Homo sapiens: one gene and its partners. Changing the gene in region 5 together with the main gene of any one other region gives a genetic interaction. Each region holds a gene or a part of one and is shown on either strand. Other genes may lie near its edges.

The links.
Region 1: changes in NUP43 (region 5) and GNL3L together harm fitness more than expected from each alone (negative genetic interaction), as found in Homo sapiens cells (one large-scale study listed by BioGRID).
Region 2: changes in NUP43 (region 5) and RAD51 together harm fitness more than expected from each alone (negative genetic interaction), as found in Homo sapiens cells (one large-scale study listed by BioGRID).
Region 3: changes in NUP43 (region 5) and EIF2B5 together harm fitness less than expected from each alone (positive genetic interaction), as found in Homo sapiens cells (one large-scale study listed by BioGRID).
Region 4: changes in NUP43 (region 5) and PPP2R1A together harm fitness more than expected from each alone (negative genetic interaction), as found in Homo sapiens cells (one large-scale study listed by BioGRID).
Region 6: changes in NUP43 (region 5) and YTHDC1 together harm fitness more than expected from each alone (negative genetic interaction), as found in Homo sapiens cells (one large-scale study listed by BioGRID).
Region 7: changes in NUP43 (region 5) and SKIC8 together harm fitness more than expected from each alone (negative genetic interaction), as found in Homo sapiens cells (one large-scale study listed by BioGRID).

The regions. Positions count from the first base shown.
Region 1 is NC_000023.11:54,564,417-54,568,848, reverse strand, and holds the end of GNL3L (guanine nucleotide-binding protein-like 3-like protein), read right to left. Parts: 3' UTR 1,560-4,432; downstream 1-1,559.
Region 2 is NC_000015.10:40,708,178-40,712,823, reverse strand, and holds part of RAD51 (DNA repair protein RAD51 homolog 1), read right to left. Parts: intron 3,800-4,646; coding exon 3,708-3,799; intron 1-3,707.
Region 3 is NC_000003.12:184,138,048-184,141,857, reverse strand, and holds part of EIF2B5 (translation initiation factor eIF2B subunit epsilon), read right to left. Parts: coding exon 3,783-3,810; intron 3,693-3,782; coding exon 3,612-3,692; intron 2,963-3,611; exon of another isoform or gene 2,934-2,962; coding exon of another isoform or gene 2,919-2,933; intron 1,779-2,918; coding exon 1,701-1,778; exon of another isoform or gene 1,643-1,700; coding exon of another isoform or gene 1,637-1,642; intron 1,441-1,636; coding exon 1,128-1,440; intron 1-1,127. UniProt on the Homo sapiens protein: Acts as a component of the translation initiation factor 2B (eIF2B) complex, which catalyzes the exchange of GDP for GTP on eukaryotic initiation factor 2 (eIF2) gamma subunit.
Region 4 is NC_000019.10:52,213,384-52,218,029, reverse strand, and holds part of PPP2R1A (serine/threonine-protein phosphatase 2A 65 kDa regulatory subunit A alpha isoform), read right to left. Parts: intron 2,252-4,646; coding exon 2,137-2,251; intron 2,027-2,136; coding exon 1,956-2,026; intron 1,502-1,955; coding exon 1,367-1,501; intron 1-1,366. UniProt on the Homo sapiens protein: The PR65 subunit of protein phosphatase 2A serves as a scaffolding molecule to coordinate the assembly of the catalytic subunit and a variable regulatory B subunit.
Region 5 is NC_000006.12:149,736,506-149,740,403, forward strand, and holds part of NUP43 (nucleoporin Nup43), read right to left. Parts: intron 2,274-3,898; coding exon 2,138-2,273; intron 118-2,137; coding exon 1-117. UniProt on the Homo sapiens protein: Component of the Nup107-160 subcomplex of the nuclear pore complex (NPC). The Nup107-160 subcomplex is required for the assembly of a functional NPC.
Region 6 is NC_000004.12:68,343,001-68,347,646, reverse strand, and holds part of YTHDC1 (YTH domain-containing protein 1), read left to right. Parts: intron 1-4,646. UniProt on the Homo sapiens protein: Regulator of alternative splicing that specifically recognizes and binds N6-methyladenosine (m6A)-containing RNAs.
Region 7 is NC_000015.10:78,282,188-78,286,771, forward strand, and holds the end of SKIC8 (superkiller complex protein 8), read right to left. Parts: intron 3,947-4,584; coding exon 3,854-3,946; intron 3,538-3,853; coding exon of another isoform or gene 3,474-3,537; exon of another isoform or gene 3,153-3,473; coding exon 3,074-3,152; intron 1,335-3,073; coding exon 1,245-1,334; 3' UTR 1,048-1,244; downstream 1-1,047. UniProt on the Homo sapiens protein: Component of the PAF1 complex (PAF1C) which has multiple functions during transcription by RNA polymerase II and is implicated in regulation of development and maintenance of embryonic stem cell pluripotency.

The DNA of each region.
Region 1 (4,432 bases), on a different chromosome or scaffold from region 5:
AGGCGTCGTGGCTCACGCCTATAATCCCAGCACCTTGGGAGGCCCAGGCAGATGGATCATGAGGTCAGGAGTTCAAGACCAGCCTGGCCAACACGGTGAAACCCCATCTCTACTAAAAATACAAAACATTAGCCGGGCATGGTGGCGCATGCCTCTAATCCCAGCTACTTGGGAGGCTGAGGCAGGAGAATCACTTGAACCCAGGAGGCAGAGGTTGCAGTGAGCGGAGATCGTGCCACTGCACAACAGCCTGGGCGACAGTGTGTGAGACTCCGTCTCAAAAAAAAAAAAAAAAGATACTACATAGTTATTTTGAAGATGAGGAAAGAAGCCATTATTCTAGGAATCTAAGCAGCCTCTAGAAGCTGAAAAAGGCAAGGAAATGGATTCTCCCCTAGAGTCTCTGGAGAGAGTGTAACCCTGACAACACCAATTTTGGCCCAGTGAAACTCATTTGGGACCTCTCACCTCTAGAAGTGTAAGATGATAGATTTGTGTTGTTTTAAGCCACAAAGTCTGTGCTAATTTTTTACAGCAGCAATAGAAACTAATATAACTTCCCAACAATTTATTAAAAGAATAGGCTGGGTGCAATGGCTCATGCCTGTAATCCCAGCATTTTGGGAGCCTGAGGCGGGCGGATCACAAGGTCAGGAGTTCGAGACCAGCCTGGCCAATATGGTGAAACCCCATCTCTACTAAAAATACAAAAACTAGCCGGGCGTGGTGGCACGCACCTGTAGTCCCAGCTACTCAGGAGGCTGAGGCAGGAGAATCACTTGAACCCGGGAGGCAGAGGTTGCAGTGAGGCAAGATCATGCCACTGCACTCCAGCCTGGGTGACAGAGTGAGACTCCGTCTCACAAAAAAAAAAAAAAAAGAATAATACATCATGACAAAGTGGGGTTTATCACAGGAATGCAGGATTGGTTTATCATAAGAAAATCAATCAATATAATTTATTAAAACTACATTAAAAACAAACCACAAAAGAAAAACCATGTAATCATTTCAATAGATGCATAAAAACATTTAAGAAAATCTAACATCCATTCCTAAAACAAACCCTTAGCACCTCATACTAGTAAAGGGCAATACAAAAATCTAACATACTTAATGGTTAAAGGCAGAAAGAATACTCTCCCCCAAAGTCAGAAACAAGACAGGGATGCCTGTGCTCACCATTCTTTTTTTTTTTTTTTGAGATGGAGTTTCGCTCTTGTTGCCCAGGCTAGAGTGCAATGGTGTGATCTCGGCTCACTGCAACCTCTGCCTCCTGGGTTCAAGAGATTCTCCTGCCTCAGCCTCCCAAGTAGCTGGGACTACAGGCATGCGCTGCCACACCCAGCTAATTTTGTATTTTTAGTAGAGACGGGGTTTCTCCATGTTGGTCAGACTGGTCTCAAACTCCCGACCTCAGGTGATCAGCCCACCTCAGCCTCCCAAAGCGCTGGGATTACAGGCGTGAGCCACCGCACCTGGCCACCACTCTTACTCAGTGTAGTACTGGAAGTCCCAGCGACTACAATAAGACAAAAAAAAAAATGCAGACATATATATTAGACATGAAGAAATAAAACCATGTTTATTCACAGAAGATATGATTGTCTATGTAGAAAGTCTGGTTAAATCTGCAAAAAAAGCTACTAGAACTAAGTGACTTTAGCAAAGTTTTAGCACATACTGCTAGAAAAATTGGGTAACCATATTTTTTTAAAAAGCATAGATTCATACCTTGTACCATATACAAAAATTGACTCAAAATGGATCATAGACCTAAATGTAAAACCTAAAACTATAAAACTTTTAGGAGGAAACATGGGAGAAAACCTTTGTCATCTCATGTTAAGCAAAGACTCCTCTGATGTAACACAAAAAGCATGATCCATAGAAAAACAAATTAATAAATTTAACAGCCATGGTGGCACATGCCTGTGGTCCCAGCTACTCAAGAGGCGGAGGTGGGAGGTTCGCTTGAGCCCAGGAGGTCGAAGCTACAGTGACCTATGAGCACACCACTGCACCCCAGCCTGGGTGACAGTGAGATCCTGTCTCAAAATAAGGGGAGAGATCTCCATACCCATATTCATAACAGCATTTTTCACAATAGCCAAAAGGTGGGAACAATGCACATGTCCATCAGTGGATGAATGGATAAATAAAATGTGGTATATACACACAATAGAATAATACTCAGCATTAAAAAGAAAAGAAATTCTGACGCAGGCTACAACACAGATTAAGCTTGAATACATTATGCAAAGTGAAATAAGCCAGTCACAAAAAGATAAATATTATATGACTATCAGGGTATTCAAATTCAGAGACAGAAAGTAGCATGGCAGTCGCCAGAGGTTGTGGGCAGAAGGGGTTGGGAGGTTATTGTTTAATAAGTACAGTTTTGGTTATGCATAATATAAATCATTCTGCCATAAAGACACATGCACACATATGTTCACTGCAGCACTATTCACAATACCAAAGACATGGAATCGACCTAAATGTCTATCAACGAAAGACTGGATAAAGAAAATGTGGTACATATGTGTGGGGATTATGGGAACTACAATTCGAGATTTAGGTGTGGACACAGCCAAACCATATCAGATGGTAACGTTTATGTTCTGTGTATTTTACCATAATTTTTAAAAATAAAAACAAATGTGTCAATAAAGCTTTCCCATAATGAAAAAAAGACACCGTTTACAGAATGAGAAGACAAGATACTGGCCAGGCACAATGGCTCATGCCTGTAATCCCAGAACTTTGGGAGGCTAAGACGGGTGTATCACTTGAGGTCCAGAGTTCAAGACCAGCCTTGCCAACATGGTGAAACCTTGTCTCTGGTAAAAATATAAAAGTTAGCCAAGCATGGTGGCCTGCGCCTGTAATTCCAGCTACTCAGGAGGCTGAGGCATGAGAATTACTTGAACCCAGGAGGCAGAGGTTGCAGTGAGCCGAGATTGCACCACTACACTCCAACCTGGGTGAGGACTCTGTTTCAAAAAAAAAAAAAAAAAAAAACACCCCTGTATCCAGCATATAATCCTCAAAATTCAAAAATAATAAAACAATCCAAAATATGCAAGAGATGTGAACACCTTGCCAAAGAAGATATGTAGATAGCAAATAAGCATATAAAATATGCTCAAATCATTAGAGGATGCAAATAAAAACGATGAGATACCACCACATACTTAATGTCAAAAAACCTGGCTGGGCATGGTGGCTCACACCTGTAATCCTAGCACTTTGGGAGACCGAGATGGGAGGATTACTTGAGGCCAGCAGTTCAAGACCATCCTGGTCAACACAGTGAGACCCCATCTCTATTTAAATGTATTAAAAAAATTAAAAAATTTAAAAATTAAAAAACTAAACTGACACCCCCAAGTACTAGAGAGGATGTGGAAATGAAACTTTCATACTGATGGGAATGTGAAATGGTAGAGCCACTTTGAAAAACAGTTTAGAAGTTTCTTAAAATGTCAAACATATGCTTACCATATATCCCAGCAATCCAACTCTAGGTATTTACTATAGATAAATGAAAACACAAAATGTTGCATACAAATGTTTATAGCAGCTTTACTTGTAATTGTCCAAAACTGCAAAGATCCTAAACATCCTTCAACTGGGGAACAAACAGTAGTAAATCCACACAATGGAGTGACTCAGAAATAAGAACTATTAATATACTGAGAAATATGGATGAATCTCAAATGTATTACTCATAGCAAAAGAAGTCGCTCTCAAAATGCTACATACCATATAATTTCATGTATATAACAGTCTTCAAAAGACGAAAATATATGGCCGGACACGGTGGTTCATGCCTATAATCCCAGCACTTTGGGAGGCCGAGGTGGGTGGATCTTTTGAGGTCAGAAGTTCAAGACCAGCCTGGCCAGTGTGGAGAAACCCCCGCCTCTACTAAAAATACAAAAATTAGCCCAGCATGGTGGTGGGCACCTGTAGTCCCTGTTACTCGGGAGGCTAAGGCAGGAGAATCGCTTGAACCCAGGAGGTGGAGGTTGCAGTGAGCCAAGATCACGCCACTGCACTCCAGCCTCAGTGAAAGAGTGAGACTCTGTTTCAAAAAAAAAAAAAAAAAAAAGACAAAAATATAAGAACAAAGAAAAAGGCCAGGCGCAGTGGCTCACTCTTGTAATCCCAGCACTTTGGGAGGCTGAGGCAGGAGGATCATGAGGTCAGGAGTTCGAGACCAGCCTGGCCAAAACAGTGAAACCCCATCTCTACTAAAAATACAAAAATTAGCTGGGCGTGGTGGCGGGCGCCCATAATCCCAGCTACTCGGGAGGCTGAGGCAGGAGAACCGCTTGAACCCTGGAGGCGGAGGTTGCAGTGAACCGAGATCACGCCACTGCACCACTCCAGCCTGGACAACAGAGCTAGACTCTGTCTCAAAAAA
Region 2 (4,646 bases), on a different chromosome or scaffold from region 5:
CTAGGAAGCCTCTTCTGTAACACTGATATAAGGCAGATTTTGTTTCAGTTGTTTTGATCTCCAACAGTAAGTTGTGCCCATGGCAGAAGTGGGTATAATCTATCTAGATTAAAATAATGCCATGTTTTTCAAAATAACTAAAATTATAATAAAGCTTCAAAAGATTATAACAGAAGAGTTGGTCCATGGGCATGGGCCAGGTTCAAGGATACTTTGTGGACTGGCCACTTATGCAGCACATCCTTAAAGCCAGAGAACATTAAGACTCACTTAGACAAGGAAAAACGGCTCCCCATTACACTGCCTGAAGTTGCAGAAAAGATGAAAGTTTGTTAGCTTTCTCTTCTATATCCTACTCCCTTCCTTTCTCATGGATCTTTCGTTTCCAGATTCCATTTTTACTTCTCTGTGTGACTTAGTTCCACATCTCTCAATACAGCTAGAAATTTTCACTCGGGGTTTGTCACCTCAAACCTGTCATCTCTAAACCTGTACTCATGTTTCCAACAAAACTGTCTTCCCCTCTCAAACACTTTTTAGGTTTACTAAGTTACTGTAATACATTGTTGGGCTGAGGTGTATTTTTTATTGTCAGTCATCAAGCGCTGCCCTTTACAACATCTTTTCCCTACTTCTCTTTATTGTCACTATCTTAGTTTCCTGACCAGCTAATGCTTACTCTTCATAAAATCAAGTTTAAACTTCTTAACCTTCTGAAATAGGATCTTAATTTTTTTTTTTTTTTTGAGATGGAGACAAAATCTTGCTCTGTTGCCCAGGCTGGAGAGCAGTGGTACAATCTTGGCTCATGGCAACCTTGGCCTCCTGGGCTCAAGCGATTCTCCCGCCTCCACCTCCCAAGTAGCTGCCACTACAGGCACAGCCCACGTCTGGCTAATTTTTATATTATTTGTAGAGATAGGGTCTTGCCATGTTGCCCAGGCTGGTCTCAAACTCCTGAGCTCAAGCGATCCACCCACCGTGGCCTCCCAAAGTGCTGGGATTACAGGTGTGAGCTATCATGCCCAGTTTGATGTATCTTTTTAAGGGTCATCTCCTACAACTTTTCTACACAAACTCTAAACCAGTTAAATGACCTTGCTTATTTATTGTCTTTTCCTTCTAACTTATGCCTTCCCATCCTCTGTTCATCCCATTCTATACAGTTAAATGCTTTTAATTTCCTTCCTTCCCAAATTTAGCATTCTTCAGAAGTCTGGTCCAAAATCTTTTCTCCATAAAGTATTCCATGATCACTCTAGGGTGAAATTACCCCTTTCTATTCCTTAAACAGCTAACCCATTTCCTCTGTGACATTCATTTTATATATCAGGCATGTTTTTGGACATCTATTATCTCCACTCATTCAAGCATTTATTGTTTACTGAGAGCCAAACACTGCCTTAGGCACTAGCAATACAGCAGAAAACATGCAGTGGCACGATCCCAGTCACTGGAGCCTCGACCTCTTGGGCTCAAGAGATTCTACCACCTCAGCCTCCTGAGTAGCTAGGACCACAGGTACACATCATCATGCTGGGCTAATATTTTTAATTGTCTGTTTTTGTTTGTTTGTTTTTAGAAATGGCATCTCAGAAACAGGGTCTCACTATGTTGCCCAGGCTGGTCTCAAATTCCTGGTCTCAAGCAATCCTCCCACTTTGGCTTCCCAAAGTACTGGGATTACAGGCATGAAACACCATGCTGGCCTCTTATGAAGTTTTAAGAACATCATCTCTGAAGTCTGGTTTGAGTCCAGTATTTGCTACTTAAATACAATGTATTGGGCAATTATTTAACCTACTGTGTCTATTTCCAAATCTTCCCACCAATAGGAGCATAAGTAAAGGAAAAAGAAACTGAAGGGGTCCAGGGAAGGTTTTTTCCTAATGGAGGAGACACTAGACATATTTGTATACTGATGAGGATAATCTCATAGAGAGGTACAAGAGAAAATGGAAGGAGTAGAGTCCTTGAGAAGGTGGCAGGAGATGGTAACCAAATCATATTGATAGAATGGGCCTTTGAGAAGAAAAGGGACACTTTCTCAATTGTAACCTGAGATAAGAAAAGATGGGCACAAATGTAGATTTGATGCAAAGAGCAGGTTAGGTTTTTGGCTAAGAATGAGAGTTGAAGAGGAGCATAAAGTTCTGATAACAGAAGACGAAGTATGAGATATGAGATGCCTGTCTAACTCAGTGGGAAAGTACACCTAAATGGAGAAAGTAGACTGCCAAGAAGTTTTGAATGTTAATCTAAAGTTTTGTCATCTTGAATTTTTTTCCTTTTTTCATTCTTTTTTTTTTTTTTTTTTTTTTTGAGACAGAGTCTCGCTTCTTTGACCAGGCTGGAATGCAATGGTGCGATCTCAGCTCCCTGCAACCTCTGCCCCCCGGGTTCAAGCGATTCTCCTGCCTCAGTCTCCCAAGTAACTGGGATTACAGGCACGTGCCAACACGCCCAGCTAATTTTTGTATTTTTAGTAGAGACAGGGTTTCACCATGTTGGCCAGGCTGGTCTTGAACTCCTGATCTTTTTTTTTTCTTCTTCTTTTTTTTTTTTTTTTTTTTTTTTTTTTTGAGACAGAGTCTCGCTCTGTCGCCCAGGCTGGAGTGCAGTGGCGCAATCTCGGCTCACTGCAAGCTGTGCCTCCCGGGTTCACGCCATTCTCCTGCCTCAGCCTCCCAAGTAGCTGGGACTACAGGCACCCGCCACCACGCCCAACTAATTTTTTGTATTTTTAGTAGAGATGGGGTTTCACTGTGTTAGCCAGGATGGTCTCAATCTCCTGACCTTGTGATCCGCCCACCTCGGCCTCCCAAAGTGCTGGGATTACAGGCGTGAGTCACCGCGCCCAGCCAAACTCTTGATCTCAAGTGATCCACCCGCCTCGGCCTCCCAAAGTACTGGGATTACAGGCGTGAGCCACCGTGCCTGGCCTGTCATCTTGAATTTAAAGTGAAGTCAGTCAGCTGTATGATACGATTTTTCTCCAGTATAATCAGCTATTTGGGTACAGACACTGAGAAGATAGATGAGTTTCATCTAAGGTTGGCATCTCTTCAAGTGGGTATGTAAACTGAGGCTATCTGCAAGAGAATTACTTTAATGATGAATCATAAAATCTAGACTAATGAAGAAGATGGAGGGCTGGGCGCAGTGGCTTACGCCTATAATTCCAGCACTTGGGAGGCCAAGGTGGGTGGATCACTTGAGATCAGGAGTTCAAGAGGAGCCTGGCCAACATGGTGAAACCCCCTCTCTACTAAAAACACAAAAATTAGCCGGGCATGCTGGTGGGCGCCTGTAATCCCAGGTACTCGGGAGGTTGATGAAGGAGAATCACTTGAACCAGAGAGGAGGTTGCAGTGAGCTGAGATCACACCACTGTACTTCAGCCTGGGCGACACAGCGAGATTCTGCCTCAAAAAAAAAAAAAAAAAAAAAAAGTAGCAAGTAAAGCCAGGAAAAGGCCTGGTAGCAAAAGTATTTGAAATTAACGTATCTGATAGGAGATCAATGATTTGGAAGTTTCTATGACATGGAAGGATTTTGAAGTAGGAGTCTATCTTCTAACTATTAACAGCTATAAGATTCTTGAGGACAGAGAAAGTACCTTTTATGGCCATCCTAACAGATGCTTGCAAATAGCAGGAATGAAGTAATGCTTGCTTATTTGATTAGCTATAGCCCCAACAGCTCACCTGGCAGGTGACAGCTAGCGTATGACAGATCTGGGTCTTCCCAGTTCGGAATTCTCCAAACATTTCTGTGATAGATCCAGTCTCAATTCCACCTAAAAAAGCGATAAGAAATAACTCTTAGCATAATACAAACATGTAGAAACTGTAGTCATAGAAATGTTCTTGGAGCTCATCAGAAAGATGTTTATGTAAGTTAAAAATTCAATTTCCAACAAGCGATAATTTTTCACAAATGTATTTTGAGGCTAGCCGTGGTGGCTCATGCCTGTAATCCCAGCACTTTAGGAAGCTTAGGTGGGTGGATTGCTTGAGTTCAGGAGTTCGAGACCAGCCTGGGCAACATGGTGAAGCCCTGTCTCTACAAAAATTAGCCGGGCATGGTGGCGGATGCCTGTAGTACCAGCTACTCAGGAGCTAAGGTGAGAGGATCACTTGAGCCTGGGAGGCAGAAGTTGCAGTGAGCCAAAATCGTGCCAGTGCACTCTAGCCTGGGTGACACAGTGAGACCCTGTTTCAAAACAAACAAACAAACAAACAAATAAACCAAAAGTATTTTGAAATAATTAGATTTATAGATAGCTGCAAATAAGGCCAGGTGCGGTGGCTCACACCTGTAATCCCAGCACTTTAGGGGGCCGAGGCGGGCTGATCACCTGAGGTCAGGAGCTCGAGACCAGCCTGGCCAACATGGTGAAACCTCATGTCTACTAAAAATACAAAACTTAGCTGGAACTGGTGATGGGCACCTGTAATCCCAGCTACTAGCAGGCTGAAGCAGGAGAATCACTTGAACCTGGGAGGCGGAGGCTGCAGCAAGCCGAGATCACGCCACTGCACTCCAGCCTGGGTGACAAAGTGAGACTCCTCAAAAAAAAAAAAAAAAAAGCTGGGCACAATATGGTGAAACCCTGTCTCTACTAAAAATACAAAAATTAGCTG
Region 3 (3,810 bases), on a different chromosome or scaffold from region 5:
GGACAGGGCTGACTGACACCAGCACAGCTCCCACCTAGCTCTCATTCCCCATCCCGCAAGTCACCAGAAACACCCACTCACCCCCTAAGCCCAGGCCTGAGAAGATACTTCACCAAGTTTACAACAATTATAGACTACACACAGAGCTTAAGAACCCGAGAACCTTCAGGATTTCTGGGGACCCTCTGAACTCAAAAAACCTTATTAGAATCATATCCACGCCTACAAGCAGAACCAAATAATTCCACCTCTTCTGGTACATTTTAGAAACCAAGTCTTTTTTTTCTTTTGAGACACGGTCTCATTCCATCACCCAGGCTGGAGTGCAGTAGTATGATCATGACTCACTGCACCCTCGACCTCTGGGCTCAGGTAATCCTCCTGCCTCAGCCTCCCGAATAGCTGAGATTACAGGCACGCGCCATCATGCCCAGCTAATTTTTGTATCATTTGTGGAGAAGGGGTGTCGCTATGTTGCCCAGGCTGGTCTTGAACTCCTGGGCTCAAGCGATCCTCCCACCATGGCTTCCCAGTGTGCTAGGATTACAAGCATGAGCCACCACGCTCAGCCCCTAGAATCTGAGCCTTACTGTTGTTCTTGGAAAGGGGCAGTACTATTAGACGCATCACACTCCTGCAACCAAAATGAGATACCAAGAGGCCAACCAGGCAGTTATGGTAGACTCAAAAGAACACTGGACTTACATTCAGAATACCCAGATTCAGGTCCCACCATTATTACCAATGACCTTGGGCAAGAAAATCTTGTTGAGCCTGTTTATTTGTAAATTATGAAGATTAAATGTAACAATGTATATAAAAGCCCTTTGTAAACTGTAATGTGCTAAATAGATGTTGTTACTGCATGTTAATTATCTACTTGCTCCTGAATGTGACTACAGGGTACCCTGGAATGTGAAGAGTCATCCAATGAGAGGCCCACAGGCTACAAATTAAGGTATCGCTGTTTTCAAATCCCTGTTTCCTCCTTTCCTGAGGTAGCCGCTCTATAGTTCCTTATTCCCAGGGACTGTCCCTTGTGTAGCCATCCCTTGTGTTTCTGGAGACGTGGCCCCCCCAGGTTCCTGTTCCTAGGATAGTTGGCTTGATTCCCCACCTGTGCTCACCAATGTGGCAGCCGGGGCCAATGACACTGTTGGTGATAAAGCAATTGCTGCCAATGACAGTGCCAGAGCCCAGGAGCACATTTTCCTCTAGGATGCTGCCATGGCCCAGGCTGACCTCAGGCCCTCGGTAGATGTTGTGCCGGGAATGAGTGCAGCTCTGGGTGGTGCTGTCAGTGAAGTTCGCCTCTGGGGTGAGAGGGTAGACCCATCGGCGGATGACGTCAGCACAGACAGCTGAGTACATGTGTAGGTTGGAGACACGGGCACCATATTCCTTAGCTGTTACGTGCATGTGGATCTGGTTCCCTAGGATCTGAATGAGAAGGAAAGGGAGGTCACCTAAGCAAGAAAGACAGGAAGAATGCCCCCAAGTACAACTTTTCTAATCCTTTTAAGTTCCCCTCTGCCTCTCACTGCCACAAAGATTCTTCTTTGTGTACTGTTCCTCCTGTCCCCTGCTTTTCCTCCCTCCTAAGCCTCAATAAAATACAAAAAAGATCAAAAGTTACCAGCATGAGATACAATCATAGCCTTCTCCTCTCTCCTAAAGAGGCATTGGAAGACTTTTCTCACCTCCTCATTCACTAAGAGACCTCGCACAAAGTCATCTCGAGTTTGGTAGTCAAAGTTGTCTGTAAAGAGTTGTGCCACCTGTGGAAGGGAAGTGGAGTGGGCTAGAATTAAGTACTATTCTTTTTTTTTTTTTTTTGAGACAAGTCTAGCTCTGTTGCCCAGGCTGGAGTGCAGTTGCATGATCTCGGCTCACTGCAACCTCCACCTCCTGGGTTAAAGTGATTCTTGTGCCTCAGCCTCCCAAGTAGCTGGGATTACAAGCGTCCGCCACCACGCCCAGCTAATTTTTGTATTTTTATTTTTTAGTAGAGATGGGATTTCACTGTGTTGGTCAGGCTGGTCTTGAACTCCTGACCTCATGATCCACTCACCTCGGCCTCCCAAAGTGCTGGGATTACAAGCGTGAGCCACCACGCTTGGCCAGGATTAAGTACTATTCTCTAGGAGCACAGATAATCCCCCAGAGACCTAGCAAACCCTATGACAGCTGAACATGGACCAGAATTCCAAAGAGACTCCCAGTGGGATACTGGAGACAAGATCTTTGCTTTACAATAGATTCTAAAAAAAAAAAAAAGGCCAGGTGCAGTGGCTCATGCCCGTAATGCCAGCACTTTGGGAGGCCGAGGCAGGCAGATCACCTGAGGTTGGGAGTTCGAGACCAGCCTGACCAACATGGTAAAACCTCGTCTCTACTAAAAATACAAAAATTAGCTGGGTGTGGTGGCACATGCCTGCAATCCCAGCTATTTGGGAGGCTGAGGCAGGGGAATTGCTTGAACCTGGGAGGTGGAGGTTGCAGTGAGCTGAGATCGCACCATTGCATCCAGCCTGGGCAACAAGAGTGAAACTCCGACTCAAAAAAAAAAAAAAAAAAAAAAAAAAAATGCTGGGTGCAGAGGCTCACACCTGTGATTGCAGCACTTTGGGAGGCCAAGGCGGGAGGATCACCTGAGGTCAGGAGTTAGAGACCAGCCTGGCCAATATGGTGAAACCCCATCTCTACTGAAAAATACAAAAAATAGCCGGATGTGGTGGTGCGTACCTGTAGTCCCAGCTACTTGAGAGGCTGAGGCAGGAGAATCACTGGAACCCAGGAGGTGGAGGCTGCAGTAAGCTGAGATCATGCCACTGCACTCCAGCCTGGGCGACAGAGCGAGGCTCCATCTCAAAACAACAATAACAACAACAACAACAAAAAAAACTGGTGGCTCATGCCTGTAATCCCAGCATTTTGGAAGGCTGAGGTGGTCAGATTGCTTGAGCTCAGGAGTTCGTGACCAGGCCGGACAACATGGCAAAACCCCGTCTCTACAAAAAAATACAAAAATTAGTGGTAGTGCATGCCTGTGGTTCCATCTACTCAGGAGGCTGAGGCAGGAGGTTCCCTTGAACCTGGGAGGCTGAGGCTGCAGTGAGCAGTCATGGTGCCACTGTGCTCCAGCCTGGGCCACAGAGCGAGACCCTGTCTCAAAAAATATATATAAATAAAAATGAAAATAAGGCCAGGTGTGGTGGCTCATGCCTGTAATCCCAGCACTTTGGGAGGCTGAGACAGGTAGATCACTTGAGACCAGGAGTTCGAGACCAGCCTGGCCAACATGGTGAAACCCCATCTCTACTAAAAATACAAAAATTAGCCAGGCATGGTGGTGTGCCTGTAATCCCTGCTACTCAGGAGGCTGAGGCAGGAGAATCACTTGAACCTAGGAGGCAGAGTCTGCAGTGAGCTGGGATCACACCACTGCACTCCAGCCTGGGCAACAGAGCGAGACTCTGTCTCAAAAAATAAAAGTAAAAATAATGAAAATAAACAGGGAGAAGAAATATACCCTGGCCTTCTAAGGGGACAATAACAGACCCACAGAGTTCTACTCTTTGGGTGTGCAGCCCCAGCCCTAAAGAGCTCACCTGAGGAGAACAGATGCTGATATGACAATCCAGTAAATCATATCGAACCTCCACTCCATCACTACTGCCCTGAAACAGGCTCTGTGGGGAGAAGTTACAAGGACTTTAATTTGTTTCTCCCACTGAAGCCTGTCACTTCCCCATCTCAAAGGACCCCAGATATCCACACACCAGAGGAAATGCAAAACGCCGGAGACCC
Region 4 (4,646 bases), on a different chromosome or scaffold from region 5:
CTTAGTCTAGCCTCAGCCTTCCAGACTCCCACAGCCTCCGGTTTGGTCTGCCTACACTGCTGCTGGCCACCTCACTTCAATCCTTCCTTCACATAAGCCTCAGGGTGCCTTCTAACACCAACTCTATTCTGGCTCTTCCGCTTGCCCACAGTCAAGTCCAAACTCCTTCCCCAGTGGTCACCCTGATGATCTCTCCAGTCATCACCCAGCACCGCCTCTCATCCTTTGTAATACAGGCAACCTGAACTGCTGGGTGTGGTCACGTGACCCTCCTGGCCAATGGGTGTATGGGGTGCAAGCACATGTGAGGAATCTCGTCCTAGACTGTTATGAGAGAGAGAAAAAAAATCCACCACCGAATTTAAGCCAGAATGTATTCTGGGGTCTATATTAGAGCACCTTAGCCTAAACCCTAAAAAACATGAACTCATCCTTAACAGCACCTGTAACACCTTAATGGCATCATGGGACTGCCTGTCTCTCTCCACTGCCAGTCTCTGAAGGCTTTTGGGGATCAAAACTCTTATTCTAGGCTGGGGGCAGCGGCTCACGCCTATAATCCCAGGCCTTTGGAGGCCAAGGCAAAAGGACTGCTTGAGATCAGGAGTTCAAGACCAACCTGGGCAACATAATATCTTGTCTCTATGGAAAATGTTTTTTAAAATTATCTAGATGTGGTGGCTCTTGCCTGTAGTCCCAGCTACTTGGGAGGCTAAGGTGGGAGGATCACTTGAGCCTGGAAGGTGGAGGCTGCAGTAGACCATGATCACATCACTGCACTGCAGTGTGGGCAATAGAGCAAGACCCTATCTCAAAACATAAATAAATAATTTTTTTTTTGAGACAGAGTCTTGCTCTGTTGTCCAGGCTGGAGTGCAGTGGTGCAATCTTGGCTCATTGCAACCTCTGCCTCCTGAGTTCAAGTGATACTCCTGCCTTAGCTGCCCGAGTAGCTGAGATTACAGGCACTCGCCACCATGCCTGGCTAATTTTTGCATTTTTAGCAGACACGAGGTTTCATCATGTTGGCCAGGCTGGTCTCGAACTCCTGACCTCAGGTGATCCACCCGCCTCAGCCTCCCAAAGTGCTGGGATTACAGGCGTGAGCCACCGCGCCTGGCCATAAATAAAAACTTTAAATTTCTATTTTTCATATCCTCCATGTCCAGGAAAGGCCTCATGAAGAGTGCCTGGAGGAATGAACGCATGAACACACAGCTATGCCCACAAACATGCAACTCAGCAAAGATCTGGATGTCTGTTGAGATATCAGCAGATTCCTGGTCAATCTAGGTAAACCCTAGCAATCTAGGAAGACCCGCCTGTCCCCTCCACAAACCCAGAGCTGAGATCCTGGTGCCCTTACCTCATCCTTCAGCTGAGCCAGGAAGAGGGGCAAGAGGTGCTCGATGGTGTTGTCTTTGCCCAAGATGGGAGAGAGACCCATGATGACTGAGGCCAGGGCAGACTTGACATGTTGGTTGGCATCGGACACCAGCTCCTGGGAGAGAGAAGAGGCAGGCACAGGGGTCAGTGCAACCCCTGCAGCAGCAAGTGGCTAAGCAGATGCCAACTCCTAAGAGACAATAACCTGCTTCTGCCCCTCTCATTCATAGAGCAGGGGATGGCTTAGGGTACAGGGGAAATCACTATTCCTTATGAGTACCACCTACTTAAGAGTTCAATGACCCCTGCTCTCAGCAGCCCCCACTCCAACCCCAAAACCCTGTGAATGACAGGACTCAGTGACATCTGAGGTTCTAGAAAGTACTTCCACCTTTAAGGTCAGCCTCAAGCTGCAGTCAGGACCCCTAACTGCTTGAAACCCAAGAGCTGCCTGGTCCCAGAGGGCTGGGAACCTAGTTTGCAGCTGACTATCCCCAAAGCCTTGTCTCCAGCCCCTCTTTTTGGCAGGCTCGGATCCACTTGGTTCCTCCCATCAAACTCTCTGTTACCTTGATGCAGGGCAAGATCTGGGACATGATCACATTCTCCCGACAGTCAGCTGAGAGGTTTTCACAGAACTCTGTGGGCAGGGAGAGGGAGGCAAAGGGAAGTGAGACCTGATGTGCTAGTTCCACCTCCAGCCCCTTGGATACCCACCCCACTTGCTGTGTTCCGGCTGCCAGCACCAACCTTTGACCTTGTGGGAGGCTGCGGCCCTCACCTCGGCCTCACAGTCTTTCATCAGGTTCTGGAAGGCAGGGACCAGGTCTGTCTTGGTGATCTCAGGCCCCACTGCTTTCTGGAGCTGCAGACAGGAAGGAGGAGGGGGAGAGTGAGAGGGGCTGGCAGTTTACTCTGGGCTAAGGAAGCCAAAATCAAAGTGAAGGCACCAGAATTAGGGGACAGAGCGTGGGCCTTGGAAGCAGTGCTAAAATCTAATTCGAGTGCCAAGACTGGCCCCGGGGCAAGGCTCTTCACCTCGCTGAGCCTCTTTTGCTTCCAAAGAAAAATGAGGACTGCGAGGGCACCTACCTCACGGTGTTGTCAGCATTAAAAATAACACATTTCCATATTATTCAGGCTACTGAGGTTAAGTTTTCTGTTACCTGATTCAAAAACATTCAAATGATATAGTGACTGCAACTTTTTGATTTATATATGGCTGTATTTCTTAAAGATCTGTTACCAGAAGCACGAATTACTTTTGTAATGAAAATAAAACAATAGGCCAAGTGCGATGGCTCATGCCTATAATCCCAGCACTTTGGGAAGCTGAGGTGGACAGATCGCTTGAGTCCCAGAGAACAAGACCAGCCCGGGCAACACAGTGAAACCCTGACTCTACAAAAAAAACAAAACAATTAGCCGGGTGTGGGGGCAGGCACCTATCGTCCTAGCTACTCAGAAGGCTGAAGTGGGAGGATCACCTGAGCCCAGGAGGTCAAGGCTGCAGTGAGCCGTGACTGTGCCACTGCACTCCAGCCTGGGTGATGGTGTGAGACCCTGTCTCAAAATAAAAATAAAACAATAAAGATTGACAGAAAGGAAGGCACTCTAGGGCTGGGCGTAGTGGCTTACACCTGTAATCCCAGCGCTTTGGGAGACAGAGGTGGGTGGATCACTTGAGGCCAGGAATTCGAGACCAGCCTGGCCAACATGGTGAAACCCCATCTCTACTAAAAATACAAAATTAGCTGGGTGTGGTGGTGCACACCTGTAATTCCAGCTACTCAGGAGGCTAAGGCACGAGAATCACTTGAGTCTGGGAGGTGGAGGTTGCAGTCAGCTGAGCTTGTGCCACCGTACTCCAGCCTGGGCAAAAGACTGAGACTCTGTCTTAAAAAAAAAAAAAAAGGGAGGCACGCTTGGCCCTGCCTGTTTCATGGCACCAGGCATGGAAAGACGCACGGCTCCTGCTGCAAAGCTGGTTCCTGAAGACCTGGTAGGAAGCAGGACAGTTCATTATGAAGACGGGAATGAACAAGTAAAAATCTTGAAGGACCTCATGATATCTTGGGAAAATACTGCCTTTTATTCATCTTGCAAATATTTACTGAATGTCTACTATGTGCCAAGAACTGGTTTAACAGCCTAAAATTCCTGCCCTCATGGAATTTTTATTCTAAGACCCAGTGTGACACAGTTTATGCAGCTCAGGAGACAAGGATGGGAAGAACCTTCCCTAACTGTGGTGATGGTACGCTATTCTGAAGCTCTGAGTCCTTCCCGCAAATGCCAGTGGGAACCAGCATAATTAAAGGCAAAGGGCGCCTCAGGGTGGAGTGGCACTCAAGGCCTCTCTGATCCCACCCTGCCCTCTCTCCGATCCCACCCTGCCCTCTCTCCTGCTTTCTCTCAGGCTGGGCCATCAAGATCAGGCCTGAATGTTCCTGCTTGCACTTGCTCTCACCTCCCAGGGTTCTTTGTCCTCTGGCTGGAACAAAGTTCCTATCTTAGCTCTTACCCACTCATCTTCTAGAACCAGCTGTAACACCACCTCCCCTCCTCAATGCTTCCAAGGCCCCACATCTGTCTGTCTGTCCCACACCTGTGACACTTTATAATCAAATTTCCCCTAAGTCAGTCTTCCCCTTCAGACTGCCTAGCTCCATGAAGGCCAGGAATGATCCGAATTCACTGGCCCAGCAAATAGCTGGTGCTCAGCAAACATGTTTGTGGGATGAGGCAATCTGGATCCCTGTGGAAGGAGCACTGTCCTGAGAGTCACAGACCTGGAGTCTTGTCCCCTTTCTGCCTGGCTGGTAGTGTCACTCTGATCAGTTAATTAAACTTTCCGGGGCTGGGCGCGGTGGCTAACACCTGTAATCCCAGCACTTTGGGAGATGAAGGCAGGCGGATCGCTTGAGGTCAGGAGTTCGAGACTAGCCTGGCTAACAACATGGTGAAACCCCGTCTCTAATAAAAATACAAAAACTAGCCGGGTGTCGTGGTGGGCATCTGTAATCCCAGTCCCTCAGGAGGCTGAGGCAGGAGAAATGCCTGCACCCGGGAGGGACAGGCTGCAGTGAGCCAAGATTGCGCCACCACACTCCAGCTGGGTAACAAGACTCTAGCCTGGGCGACAGACTCCATCTTAAAAAAAAAAAAAAAAAAAAAAAAAAAAAACACCAAAAAACCCCACCTTTTTGGGCTGTCTTCCCCTTTGTGAAAGGACAGCTTGATTATGTCAGGAACACCCC
Region 5 (3,898 bases):
ATAGTACCTTGTCTAACATCCCAAATACTCAACATTCCATCTTGGCCACCAGTAGCTACAACATGCTGTTGGTTGGGATGTCTATCAACACAGTGGAGTGGCACTCGGTCACCAGTCCTTTTGTGGGAGATAACAATGACGTCAAAATCAAATAAAGTATAATTTATCTTTGTGTAACACAGGAAACACGTTTTTTGTTTGTTTTGAGACAAGGCCTCACTTACCCAGGCTGGAATGCAGCGCTGCAATCATTGCTTACTGTAGGCTCAAACTCCCTGGGCTCAGGTATCCTCCCACCTCAGCCTCCTGAGTTGCTGGGAGTACATGTGTGTACCATCATGCCTGGTTAACTTTTTGTATTTTTGTAGAGATGGGGTTTCTCCATGTTGCCCAGGTTGGTCTCAAACTCCCAGGCTCCAGTGATCTAGCCACCCTGGCCTTCCAAAGTGCTGGGATGACTGGTAACCGTGCCCAGCCTGTTTTTTTTTGTTTATTTTTTAAGAGACCAGGCTCAGTGGCTCACACCTGTAATCCCAGCACTTTGGGAGGCCAAGGCAGGTGGATGACTTGAGGTTCAAGACCAACCAGGCCAAAATGGCGAAACCCCATCTCTACTAAAAATACAAAAACTAGCCAGGCATGGTGGCACATGCCTGTAGTTCCAGCTACTTGGGAGGCTGAGGCATGAGAATCGCCTGAACCCAGTAGGCAGAAGTTGCAGTGAGCCAAGATCATGCCACTGCACTCCAGCCTGGGTGACAGAGTAAGACTCTGTCTCAAAGAAAAAAAAAAAAAAGAGAGACAGGGTCTTGTCTTGTCACCCAGGCTACAGTGCAATGGCCTATCTACAGCTTGCTGCAAGCTGGGCTCAAAAGAGCCTTTTGCCTCAGCCTCCCAAGTAGCTAGGACTACAGGCACATGCTACCGTGCCAGGCTATTTTAAGAAATTTTGGTAGAGATGGGGTCTCACTGTGTTGCCCTAGCTGGTCTCAAACTTCTCACCGCAGATAATCCTTCCAAAATGTTGGGATTACAGGCATGAGTCACCATGCTCAGCCAAGAAACATGTTTTATATGGTAACTAAGTGTCAACTTAGTGGCTGGAGCTACTGGCTGAATCTTTTTTTTATTTGAGACAGAGTTTTGTTCTTGTTGCCCAGGCTGGAGTGCAATGGCACGATCTTAGCTCACTGCAAACTCTGCCTCCCAGGTTCAAGTGATTCTCCTGCAAACTCTGCCTCCCAGGTTCAAGTGATTCTCCTGCAAACTCTGGCTCCCAGGTTCAAGTGATTCTCCTGCCTCAGCCTCCTGAGTAGCGGGGTCTATAGGCACGTGCCACCATGCCTGGCTAGTTTTTGTATTTTTAGTAGAGACGGGGTTTCACTGTGTTGGCCAGGCTGGTATTGAACTCCTGACCTCAAGTGATCTGCCTGCCTCGGCCTCCCAAAGTGCTGGGATTACAAGCATGAGCAACCACGCCCAGCCTGGCTGAATCTTAATGATACCAAAAAAAATGAACTAAATTAGATATATTTCTAAATAGTACAATTTTGAAATAATTCAAGGCCACAATTATTCATTTTCACTTCAATTTGGAGACATGGAATGAAAGACAATCCGATGGTAAGATGTACAAATCACATTTCCACTTGTTAAATTATTTAAAAACTCATACATCAATTATATACTAAATATTATTTATCATCTTATTTAATGCTTAGTTTATGTAACTATTTTTTCAGTGTGACACATTCTATTTTCTTACGAGAGAACGTTGTACACCTACAAAGGGGGATTTCTGCTCAGAAAAAATATTTGGAATTATATTTTTCCCCCAATCATTACATCTGGAGTATATTTTATCCATTAAACAATCATTGAAAGAGCAGAAATAAGTTCTCCATGAAATAATACAAACTTCAAAGAGTAAAGGCTCTGAATCACTATAACAAATAATTACTAAATGAAGCATAGTAGTACCAACCCCGTCAAGTTATGCTTGCTCTACCAAATTTTAATCAGGGATCTCCCTCTTAAAATGCAATTAAAATTCAATATGGCTTAAAGCCAGTAGCTATAAACAACCTAACACATTAATTTGTGGATTACATTACTGAAATTACAAATCAACACTTACAGTGACAATATCTGAGAAGGCTCATTTCCTTGTTGTCTGAAATCCCATATTTTCAACTGTCCAATTGAATTTACAGTAAGAATCTCAGGAGTTCGAAGAAAGGTTACAGCATGGAGTGTACTACTATCTGCATTGTCTAAAAATTTAAAAAATGGTAGTATGTGTTAATGAGTCCCCTTTTTTTCCCAAGAAAATCTTAAATCACACTCCTTTCATGGATTGATATATTACAATTTCCAGTAACTTATAATTTAAATTTCTATAGAAAAATGCATGGTTAATGTATATGTTTAAATGGATTCTCTTTGGATGGGAAAAACATTTACTCACAGGACATCTGAACTGTTTTCTGTTTCTTTTTTTTTTTTTTGCTCGTTGCCCAGGCTGGACTGCAATGGCGCGATCTCGGCTCACCGCAATCTCCACCTCTCGGATTCAAGCTATTCTCCTGCCTCAGCCTCCCAAATAGCTGGGATTAGAAATGTGCCACCACACCCAGCTAATTTTGTATGTTTAGTAGAGACTGGGTTTCTCCATGTTGGTCAGGCTGGTCTCGAACTCCCGACCTCAGGTGATCCACCAGCCTCGGCCTCCCAAAATGCTGGGATTACAGGCTTGAGCCACCACGCCTGGCCTACTGTTTTCTTTTTCTTTTTGTTTTTTGAGATGGATCTCGCTCTGTCACCCAGGCTAGAGGGCAGTGGCGTACTCTGGGCTCACTACAACCTCCGCCTCCCAGGTTCAAGCGATTCTCTTGCCTCGGCCTCTCTAGTACCTGGGATTACAGGTACATGCCACCATGCCTGGCTAATTTTTGTATTTTTAGTAGAGACGGAGTTTCACCATGTTGGCCAGGCTGGTCTCGAACTCCTGAGCTCAGGTGATCCGCCTCACTCAGCCTCCCAAAGTGCTAGAATTACAGGCATGACCCACCAGGCCCAGCCTTGAACTGTTTTCTAAATGGAAGGCTGAGTTTTCATACATTTCTTTTTAACTCTTAAGATTGTTACCCTGCATTTCTGAGAGAGTTGTTCAAGCTCCTCTAAACCCAATCTTACTTCCCACTAGTCCCTGACCTAGAACTTCCATTCTATTGAGCCAAACTCCAGTGCTTCCTACAGAGCTCATTCTAACCTTGTATTATTCTGCAGACTCATCCCAAATCTACTCATTTTCACCCTCATCAACTCTCGCCCTCTCCATGAAGTCACTCCTTATTGTCATAATGGTCCTTTTTGTTGATTTCCTAGTGTTTAGAACTTATGCCTCATAATTTAACATATACTTTATGGACTTTAGTTTGTGCCACTCCTCTACACTGCCACCAGGCAATGGTCATTAATTAACAAATAAGTAATGTCGCCCAGTGCAGTGGGTCATGTCTGTAATCTCAGCACTTCGGGAGGCCGAGGTGGGCAGACCACTTGAGCCCAGGAGTTTGACACCAGCCTGGGCAACATGGTGAAACCTCGTTTCTACAAAAATTAGCTGGGCATGGTGGTGTGCATCTGTAGTCCCACATCCCTGGAAGGCTGAGGTGGGAGGATCGCTTGAACCTGGGAGGCAGAGGTTGCAATGAGCTGGGATCATGCCACTGCACTCCAGCCTGGGTGACAGAGCAAGACCCTGTCTCAAAAAAAAAAAAAAAAAAAAAAAAAGTAATGCAACTTAACTCAGAAATGAAAATCATAATAAACAACACAAAAGGCCAGGTACAGTGGCTCACGCCTGTAATCCCAGCACTTTGGGAGGCCGAGGCAG
Region 6 (4,646 bases), on a different chromosome or scaffold from region 5:
TAAATGGTTTAAGATCTTGATAGCAAATGAGTCTATAAGTTGCAGAAATTGGCAATTATATTAATCACAGAACAGTAAAGACCCTTGTTCATAGAGTTCTTGATGGGGTTTTGCACTTATCTGGGTAATAAAGACATGAATTTCTATAATCTATAACAATGCTTCAATAATACTCATACCTAGAAGCTGCAGCCCATATAAGTGGACAGATTGCTAGCTCCCTGTGATTCCTGTGGTGATAATTTGCCCAAGAAACTGGATTTGAAAGGTGTTGCAATGTTGGTGTTAACTAATATTAAATGCCATTTTTCTATATAAGGAGGAAATATGCATCTTTTCTATTATTGCAAACACCTTGTATAAATTGTATTAATCTTTTACAAAGTTCTCTACAAAGAACAGTTACAAAAGTTTAATCTATCCAAAATGTGTATGAGTAATGTGTAATGAGTTACTGTGTTAAAAATAACGTGTTTTCTAGATTACCAGACTAGAAGCTCCCTGAGTGCCCGGAGTACATCTGTCTTGTTCACTGGGTTCTTTGTATACAGTAATTGTGTTTCAGTACCTTGAGTATTTACCAGGTTGGACTTCATTGACTGACTGGTTAAATGACATGTGCAGTATGATAACGAAAGCTAAGAGTTTCTCAGTTTAAGTTATACAACAGTTCTCCCCTGACCCCCAACCTCTACCAGCCTTATTTTCCTGGTAAATACGTTCTAAGATCCACAGTGGATACCTGAAACAATGGATATTACTATATCCTATCTATACTATGTTTTTTTCTATATGTATATACCTATGATGAAGTTTAATTTATAAGTCAGGGACTGTAAGAGATCAACCACAACAATAATAAAGTAGAACAGTCATTACAGTATGCCATCATCACTACTCTTGTGCTTTGGGGCTATTATTAAGTAAAATAAGAGTTACTTTGAACACTGACACTGCCATATGTGGACAGTTGATCTACTACCCGAGACAGTTACTAAATGACTAATGGCAGGTAACATATGCAATGCAAATATTTGTTGACCAAAGGGATGATTCATTTTCCAGGCAGGACAGAGTGGGACAGTGCGTAATTTCATCACACTACTTAGCGCACAATTTAAAACTTATGAATTATTTCTGGAATTCTCCATTTTTATATCTTTGGACAGTGATTGACTCAGTTGACTGGGGGTAACAAACCCTCAAAAGCAAAACCTTGGATAAGTGAGGGACTACTGTATATATACACACAGTTGTTTTCAGACGGCTTCTGTCGCCTAGGCTGGAGTGCAGTGGAGCAGTCACGGCTCACTGCATCCCCAACCTCCCAAGGGCTCCCTAGTAGCTGGGACTACAGGTGTGTGCCACCATGCCCAGCTAATTTTTTATTTTTAGTAGAGACGAGGTCTTCCTATGTTGCCCAGGATTGTCTTGAACTCCCGGGCTTAAGCAGTCTGCCTGCCTTAGCCTCCCAAAGTGCTGGAATTACAGGTGTGAGCCACCGTGCCCAGCCGTTATACAGACGGTTACATGCAGGTGTGTGTGTATATATATATATATATATATATGTACACACACAGTCATGTGCACACACATGCACACAGTCACGTGCACACAAACACAGTCGTGTCATTTAACAATGAAGATGGGCATTGTTAGGCGGTTTTGTTGTGTTATCATAGTGTGTTTACACAAACTTAGGTGGCATAACCTACTACATATCTAGGCTGTATGGTATAGTCTATTGTCCCTAGGCAACAGATCTGTTGGGCGTGCTACTGTAGGCAGTAGTAACACAATGGGAAATATTTGTGTATCTGAACATCAAAATGATGACTGTGCCACAACATTTGTATATACTATGTGTATATACTATGGCCCTCACTATAGTAATTTCTTAGGATAAAATTGCCTGTCTTGGTTCACTTTAGTTTGGGCTCTGTAAGGCATAGAGTACATATTGATACTCCAATATATTTATTTTACCTATAGTATAAGTAAGGTAGAAAATTTAAAATGATATCTTTGCACTTAAATTGTATGTTTTTATAAGAGCGGTTTTGGATGGGAAATCCAAGTTTTTAAACTTCATTTGGAGGAATGACGATTTTCAATGACAAAAACTGAGAAACTGGTCTAAATGTACAACGTACATTACAAGACAATAGAAGGGGGAGGTTCTAGTAATCTTGCTCCATTGCCAAGTCCCACTAAAATTATATTAAATGAATTAAAATATAATTTATTTTGGTACCTTGTGTTAGAAAACAAAATGTGTAGTATATTTAGTATTTAACTTTCCTTAAATACTAAATCTTAGTCTGATGCTGGAACCTCACATGTTAATAAATAGCACTGTCTTCTGACCCAGAAGCTTCTGCAGTAAAAAATGACTGTCCCAGATAAAGGTTAATTTTCTACCCTGATATCCCTAGAGTTAAAGTTTGTGACCTTCCTGGCCAAGAATGTAAAGATTATGGTAAATTTTAAGTTCCCATGTTTACCTAAAACAAAAATCCCCCAGCCAAGCAACAAACAGCTAGCTTTGTTATTTCTAACATCTTGTCAGTTTTTGAACAGGCCTTAAAAATAATGATTTTTTTTGTTGTTGGCGGGGAGACAGGGTCTTACTCTGTTGCCCAGGCTGAAGTGCAGTAGTGCGATCAGGGCTCACTGCAGCCGCGACCTCCCAGACTCTGGTGATTCTCCCACTTCAGCTTCCTAAGTAGCTGAGACTACAGGTGCGGTGCACACCACTAATTTTTGTGTTTTTTGTAGAGATGGGGTTTCATCATGTTGCCCAAGCAGATTTCAAGCTCCTGAGCTCAAGCTATATGCCTGCTTTGGCCTCCCAAAATGCTGGGATTACAAGTGTGAACCACCATGCCCGACCTGTTACTCTTTTTATATCCTTGTTTACTTCCTGTATCCTGGGAATCTGTACCTTTACCTCAAAACTCATTTTGCTATTAGTTTGTGTATAATATTAATACAAAACATTCACACGTGATTATACTTTCACGGAGGAATCTAGCAGCCAACTGTGGAATCTATCAGCCAGCTGTTTCATTTTTAATTGAGGCAGCACTGAAGAGTCATGCAATTCCAAATAAAAATCTGGGTTTCAGAGTCCTCTTGAAAATGTGGAAGATCTGACAACACAGTGCTTGCAACTGTCAAGGAAGTTAATCTTCTGGAGTTGAGTAGGATTGTCCCCTTTAGCTTTCCTCCTCTTTCCCAAAGTATTATATACGGTATACTAAAACTAGTTTGATGTTCCTGTGCCTTAGTGTATTAAACTGAGCCTTGGGTTTTTTCAAGTTTAAGATCAGTGTTATGCAGGGGTTGCAGATGTGTGTGCATGCCAGAATCTGGCAGATAAAGATAAAGTACTTGCTTAATACGTTAGGTATCATGAGTTTGTTTTTTTTTTTTTTTAAGAGCCAGCATGCTCTTTGTTCAGGTAGTAATACTGATTCACCAGATACAAACTCATTCACCAGATACAAACCCAGATTGTCTCATGCAAAACTTTGACATATGTTACCTTCTCTGTGTCTTAACAGAAGACTAGACTCTTCCAGCTGGTTGTTTTCAGGTGAGAATCTGGGCCCCTAATAATCAAATAGTATTTTTTTAAGTGGGTTTTCATATTAAATCCTTAGAATTTTTAAAAACAGCATTCAAGAGCTGAGTTTATCCTCTAGACTGCTAGTGTAAAACTTTTAGATAGATTTGAATTTTAGCTCTAAATGTAAATACTGTTTAATGTAGGATTGTTTCATTAAGCTTATTTCTTGAACTGGCACATTATAAAAAAATCCATCTTTTTGTGACATCTTAATTTTGGAACAAAATTTTATAGATTTTAACCTGAGGTCAGGAGTTCAAGACCAGCATGGCCAACATGGCAAAACCACTTCTCTACTAAAAATATAAAAATTTAGCTCGGCGTGGTGGCAGGTGCCTGTAATCCCAGCTACTTGGGAGGCTGAGGCAGGGAGAATTGCTTGAACCTCAGAGGCGGAGGTTGCAGTGAGTTGAGATCATGTCACTGCACTCCAGCCTCGGCAACAGTGAGACTGTCTCAAAAAAAAAAAAAATTTTTTTTTTTTTTTTTTTAAAGATTTTAAGTGATTTTTTAAGGCCGGGCACGGTGGCTCATGCCTATAATCCCAAGACTTTGGGAGGCCAAGGCAGGTGGATCACCTGAGGTCAGGAGTTCGAGAACAGCCTGGACAACATGGTGAAACCCTGTCTCTACTAAAAATAACAAAAATTAGCTGGGCATGGTGTGGCGGGCCTCTGTAATCCTAGCTACTCGGGAGGCTGAGGCAGGAGAATCACTTGAACCTGGGAAGTGGAGGTTGCAGTGATCCCAGATTGCGCCACTGCACTCCAGCCTGGGTGACAGAGAGAGACTCTGTCTCCAAAAAAACAAATTAAAAAAAAAGTGATTTTTAATGTCTATAGTTCTCTATATAGACATCTAAAAAAGGCTTTCAATGTGAAGTGCTTTATGTCATAGAAATTAGGATTTTTGTAGTGCATGAATTGTATGCTTATAGGCCTTTTCTTAACCTGGCATTTCTAATCTTTGTTTACTGTTGTTATTCTTGGGTTGGGATACTACTGTCAAACTATTA
Region 7 (4,584 bases), on a different chromosome or scaffold from region 5:
GAGAGATAAGTGGCTTTGCTTTTTCCTTTTTTTGAGAGCTCACATAAACAGTGTTAGGTGCCTGCCAGCTTGCCTCTCATTGGTTGACATAATGGAATGAAGTTTCCACCCTCATGGAGCTTTATTTTGGGGGTGGGGGTGAATGCAAACAAAAAGTGGTAACTGCTATGAAGAACAAGAGGAATGGGAATGAGTAGAAGGGAATGGGAAGAAGGCCTCTACCAGGAGCTGGCATCTGGGCAGAATCCTGGATGCAGCTGGGGAGCAGATGTCCGAAGGTCTGGAGGGAAAACATTCCAGGCAGAGGAATGGCAAGGATGATGTGGTTACAGGAGGGTGAGCAAGGCAAGCAGGAGGGAGAAGTGGGGGGCTATGATAAAGAGTGTGAGCTTTATTCTGAGGGCAGTGAGTGGTTTGAGGAAAAGCACATGACCTGACTCATAAGCATATGAAGTAATGATCAATAAAAAACACGCTTCCAAGTGTTCAGCTACTTACATCTTTCTCATTAACATGAGTCTCAAGGGGGCTGATGAAGAGGAAACTCTGAGGTACAGATACTCTGAAATAACTAAGGCAGGGCTACAGTTCTACAGCATGAGGCACAGGCTTCAGCCTAGGCATTGTTAAGGCAGCAAGAATAGCAGCCTGCCTTCCGATACCCACCTAGCGAGTTAGAGACCTCTCTGAAATTAATAAGGGGAAGGAGGGCTTGGCAGGGGACATCTTTAATACATCAAGTGGAAGGATGCCCAGATAGACAGGAGTACATAATGTTCCTATGCAGTCAAATATACTCTTTCCTTCAGGACTCCATTCTAAAATAGATTAGCTTCTTTATCACAGCTCCGGGGAGCTCGCTGCTGTATCTCACTGCATAAGTCAACTCCCTGGAAGAGTCAGCCTGTATTTCTAAGCTGGAAAGTTAAAGAAATACCTGGATCTCTTGATGGCTAAGGCAGAGATTTGCTCTTAATGCCAATCCCTCTCACTGTTTCACTGGTAATAGGGTAACTGAAAAAAGAAGCATGTTCAAGGACACCAGTGTTTGCATTAAGAAAGCTTTATGTTAAAGTATGAACAGCATTTCCAATAAAACATGAAAAGATTCATATTGTATCTACAAAATTTAAGTCTTTGCTACAATAAATGCTATATTTCTTTTAAACAAGCCTAAGAAGGTAAGGAATGTCATGATCAATCCGTACATTCTCTTTGCAGCATAAGCCTGGAGACTTTGATGTTTAAATTGGACAATCATAGATGTGAATTTCCTGGTCATCTCCAACAGACACAATTTTTGAACCATTTCCATTGTATTTTACTCCCCAGACCTGTAAATTTAAAAAAAGATAGTTCTACAAATGCCTTTATTCTTTATAATATTTATGAAATGAACATCCTTATTTTCTCGTTATTCTGAATCTACCAAAACTGAGATGAGGATGTTCTTGTACTTTCTAAATCAGTGAGAATGGAGGCTTTAACCGAGCACCTTCCATTATTGCTATTTAATTAGAATTCCTGCCCCTTCCCATACTCCAAAAAAAAAAAAAAAAATCATTTTTAAATACAGTACTAATCAAGACTATCTACAACCCTTTCAAAGAGTCAGAATCCTGAAGTGTAACCTAATGCCAGGAAGACGGAAGCCATAAGAGACCAACATTTATGCTTCCAGGAAGAAAGAGCCCCACAACTACCCCGAGGTCACTGCCTATAGGGAAAGTCACAAACTGCGCTCCTCAGCTGACCCCTTGTGTCCGCCCCCCACAGTCAGTAATTCTCACTCTGTTATTAGTGGCCTATGGAGCCTGCCTGTCCCCAGGAGCTAGACAACATGATATTGTGGACCATAGATTTTTATTTGCTATGTGTTAAATTAACTGATTCACACCTCCTTCCCAGACAGAATTGATGTGGTTGGAGTTTCTCTAATCATAAATAACTTCCTGATTATTAGGAGGTGATTCTGGGTGGTAAGCCTGTCACCCTACTCTGATTTTAGTGTTGGGATTGGGCTGCATGATGGCCTTTCACTCCAGCCTCTGACACAGCACCGCAATGATCCATACATACAAGGAAACACAGCTAGCCAGGACTTACTCCCTGAGTAAGATGCTTAAATCCAGAAGTGGAATATCAAGATAGAACCCCCTCAATTTTGTTGGGACAATTTAAGTTGAAAAATAAGCATGAACAATGTTAGTTAACTTTAAGTTCCATTTCAAAGAGGAGAAATCTATAGGACCATCTAAAAATATTTAAAATATATTAAAAGCCAATATTATATTGCCATGGACATTTTATTTTTTATGCTCAGTTCCCCAAGACCTTACAGTGTGGTTAGGACCAGCAGCCTTGGCCTCACCTGGAAGCCTGTTAGAAATGCAGAATCCCAGGCCCTCTGCCAGACCTAGTGAAGCAGCATCTGCATTTTCACCAGGTTCCCAGGGGATACGAGCACACATGAAAGACTCAGCAGTATTGCACTAGAACACCTTTGCTATTTCACATATTCACCTTGGCAAAGATAAAGTTGCTTGTGAGAACAGTTTCCTTTTAAAGACTGAAAAGTTATCAATAACACTAAAGCCAAAAAACTTGTATGAATTTCCAGCTTCTACTATATTAAAAAAAAAAAAATCACATCTCTTCTTTGGACAGTCCCAAAAATGACAAGCGATGATTGTGTTTAAGCAATGGAATCTCCTGAAGAGGAAGGTCCTTGGTGAGCCTGCCATGGCGCAGCAGCCCCCAGGAGAGGGCCCCAGACACCAGCTGCAGCAATTTCCAAAGACGGCATTTAAAGGCTGTGGGGCTAACACCATGTTTTCCAGCCTATGTGGGGATATGCCTCGTGAGTTGCTAGGCTGACAGCACATCCCAGCCTCTGCACCCCAGACTCTGCACAGGAACTCTGGCTACATGGATGACTGAGCAGATAGAGCAGCTCAGGCCCAGGCATCTACTGGTATCCACAGCTCAAGCAACAAGGTCAGGAAAAGAAAATCTCTTTGGTACAATGGTCAAACAACCCCGACTATCTAAAGATGAAATAATAATGCCATACCTGATCCTGGTGATCAAAGAAGGTGTGAACACAAGTCCTCGTTCCAACATCCCAAACTTTTACACTTTTGTCAGACGAACTATTTTAAAAAGTGAACATTAGTATCGGTTTGAAGTTGGAAGGACTTCGACCAAAAATCCTTTGATGACTTACATTCTTCTAACTTCAGACCCCCCAACCCCATGCCTCGGTACAGGAAATGGCCAGGTATCAGCATCATTGGGTGGCTTTCTCTCCTCACAGGGTAGCCATTTTCCTGAAATTGTGATCTGCCTGGCCCTCATATTAATTGTTCTCCAGGAGTCTCAGACACAGCTACCTATTTCCAGATGGGAGGGAGGCCTGTTAAAGCTTCAAAACCAAGGCTCGCAGGAGGCCTCTAAAGCACTGTGCAATGCCTTCAAGTTGTCCATCTCCTGCTTTCCAACTGTCTTGGCCATCCCAGGCCTGACCAACACTGGGATCTATAAACAACATTTTACAAACATTTACATATTTTAAGTTACCATTGGAACACAAGTCTACCTTAGAGTCACTTTGGTAGAAGCCTCAATTTATAATGAAAAAACTAAGAGTTTTACTGTTTAAAAGGATTACTTGTTGACTTTTGTTCCAGCTAAGGTCAACTAACATCACTAAATAAAAATTTTAAGAACTGCAGAAAAGAAAGGCTAACTGAATAAAAAAGGGTCAAACATCTTTAAATGTTAAGGCAATCTATACAAGAAGACTGCTCTCATCTCCCCAGCATTTTAGAAACTGCTAAGAATCATTAAGTACCTGGAAACAAAGTGAGTGTCATCAGGACAGAATGCAACGTTCAGCACCCAGGAGGCATGGCCGCTCAGCGTGCCAGCCAAATTGGCATGTTGTCTGAAATGGGAAAGTTTCAAACAAAATTGAGATGTTAATTTCTACAGTATAATCACTGAAGTGGAAAGTATATTATTAACTCTGCCAATAAGCTGGACCAAATCTGCTATCCTTATAATGACCATGAATACTATATCAAAAATTCCTCTTTCAATGAAGTAGCTTCATGCATTAGAGACAAATTTTAATAGTAGCATTAACCCATAATGTGTTGACACCACCAAAAGCCAAGAATAAAATCCTTCACAAGCAAAGAGCTGAAGCTCAAAATGAACAAAGAACCACACTACAGAGGCTTCGCAAGCCAACCCCTCAGATGAGGAAATTGAGAACCAACGGGGCAAGGAAGCCATCTGAGGAGAAGGGCAGGTTCAGACTCCTGCCTGCACCAGCAGCCTTTCCGTATGGGGCCAGTGCTCCCAGTCCAAGGAAAGTGTCAAGATGTATTCATTATGACAGATGCAGCTTGGAGAGACCAGTTTAAACCTAATCAAGAACAAGACAGGTCTAATTACAACAGCTATTTTCACTTTTTTAATAAAAATGAAACCCAACCACCTCTGGCAGGAGAACCACCATAAGACCTAACTGAGGTCAGCAATTTTACCCCTAAACACAGACCTCAGCAGAGTGGAGCA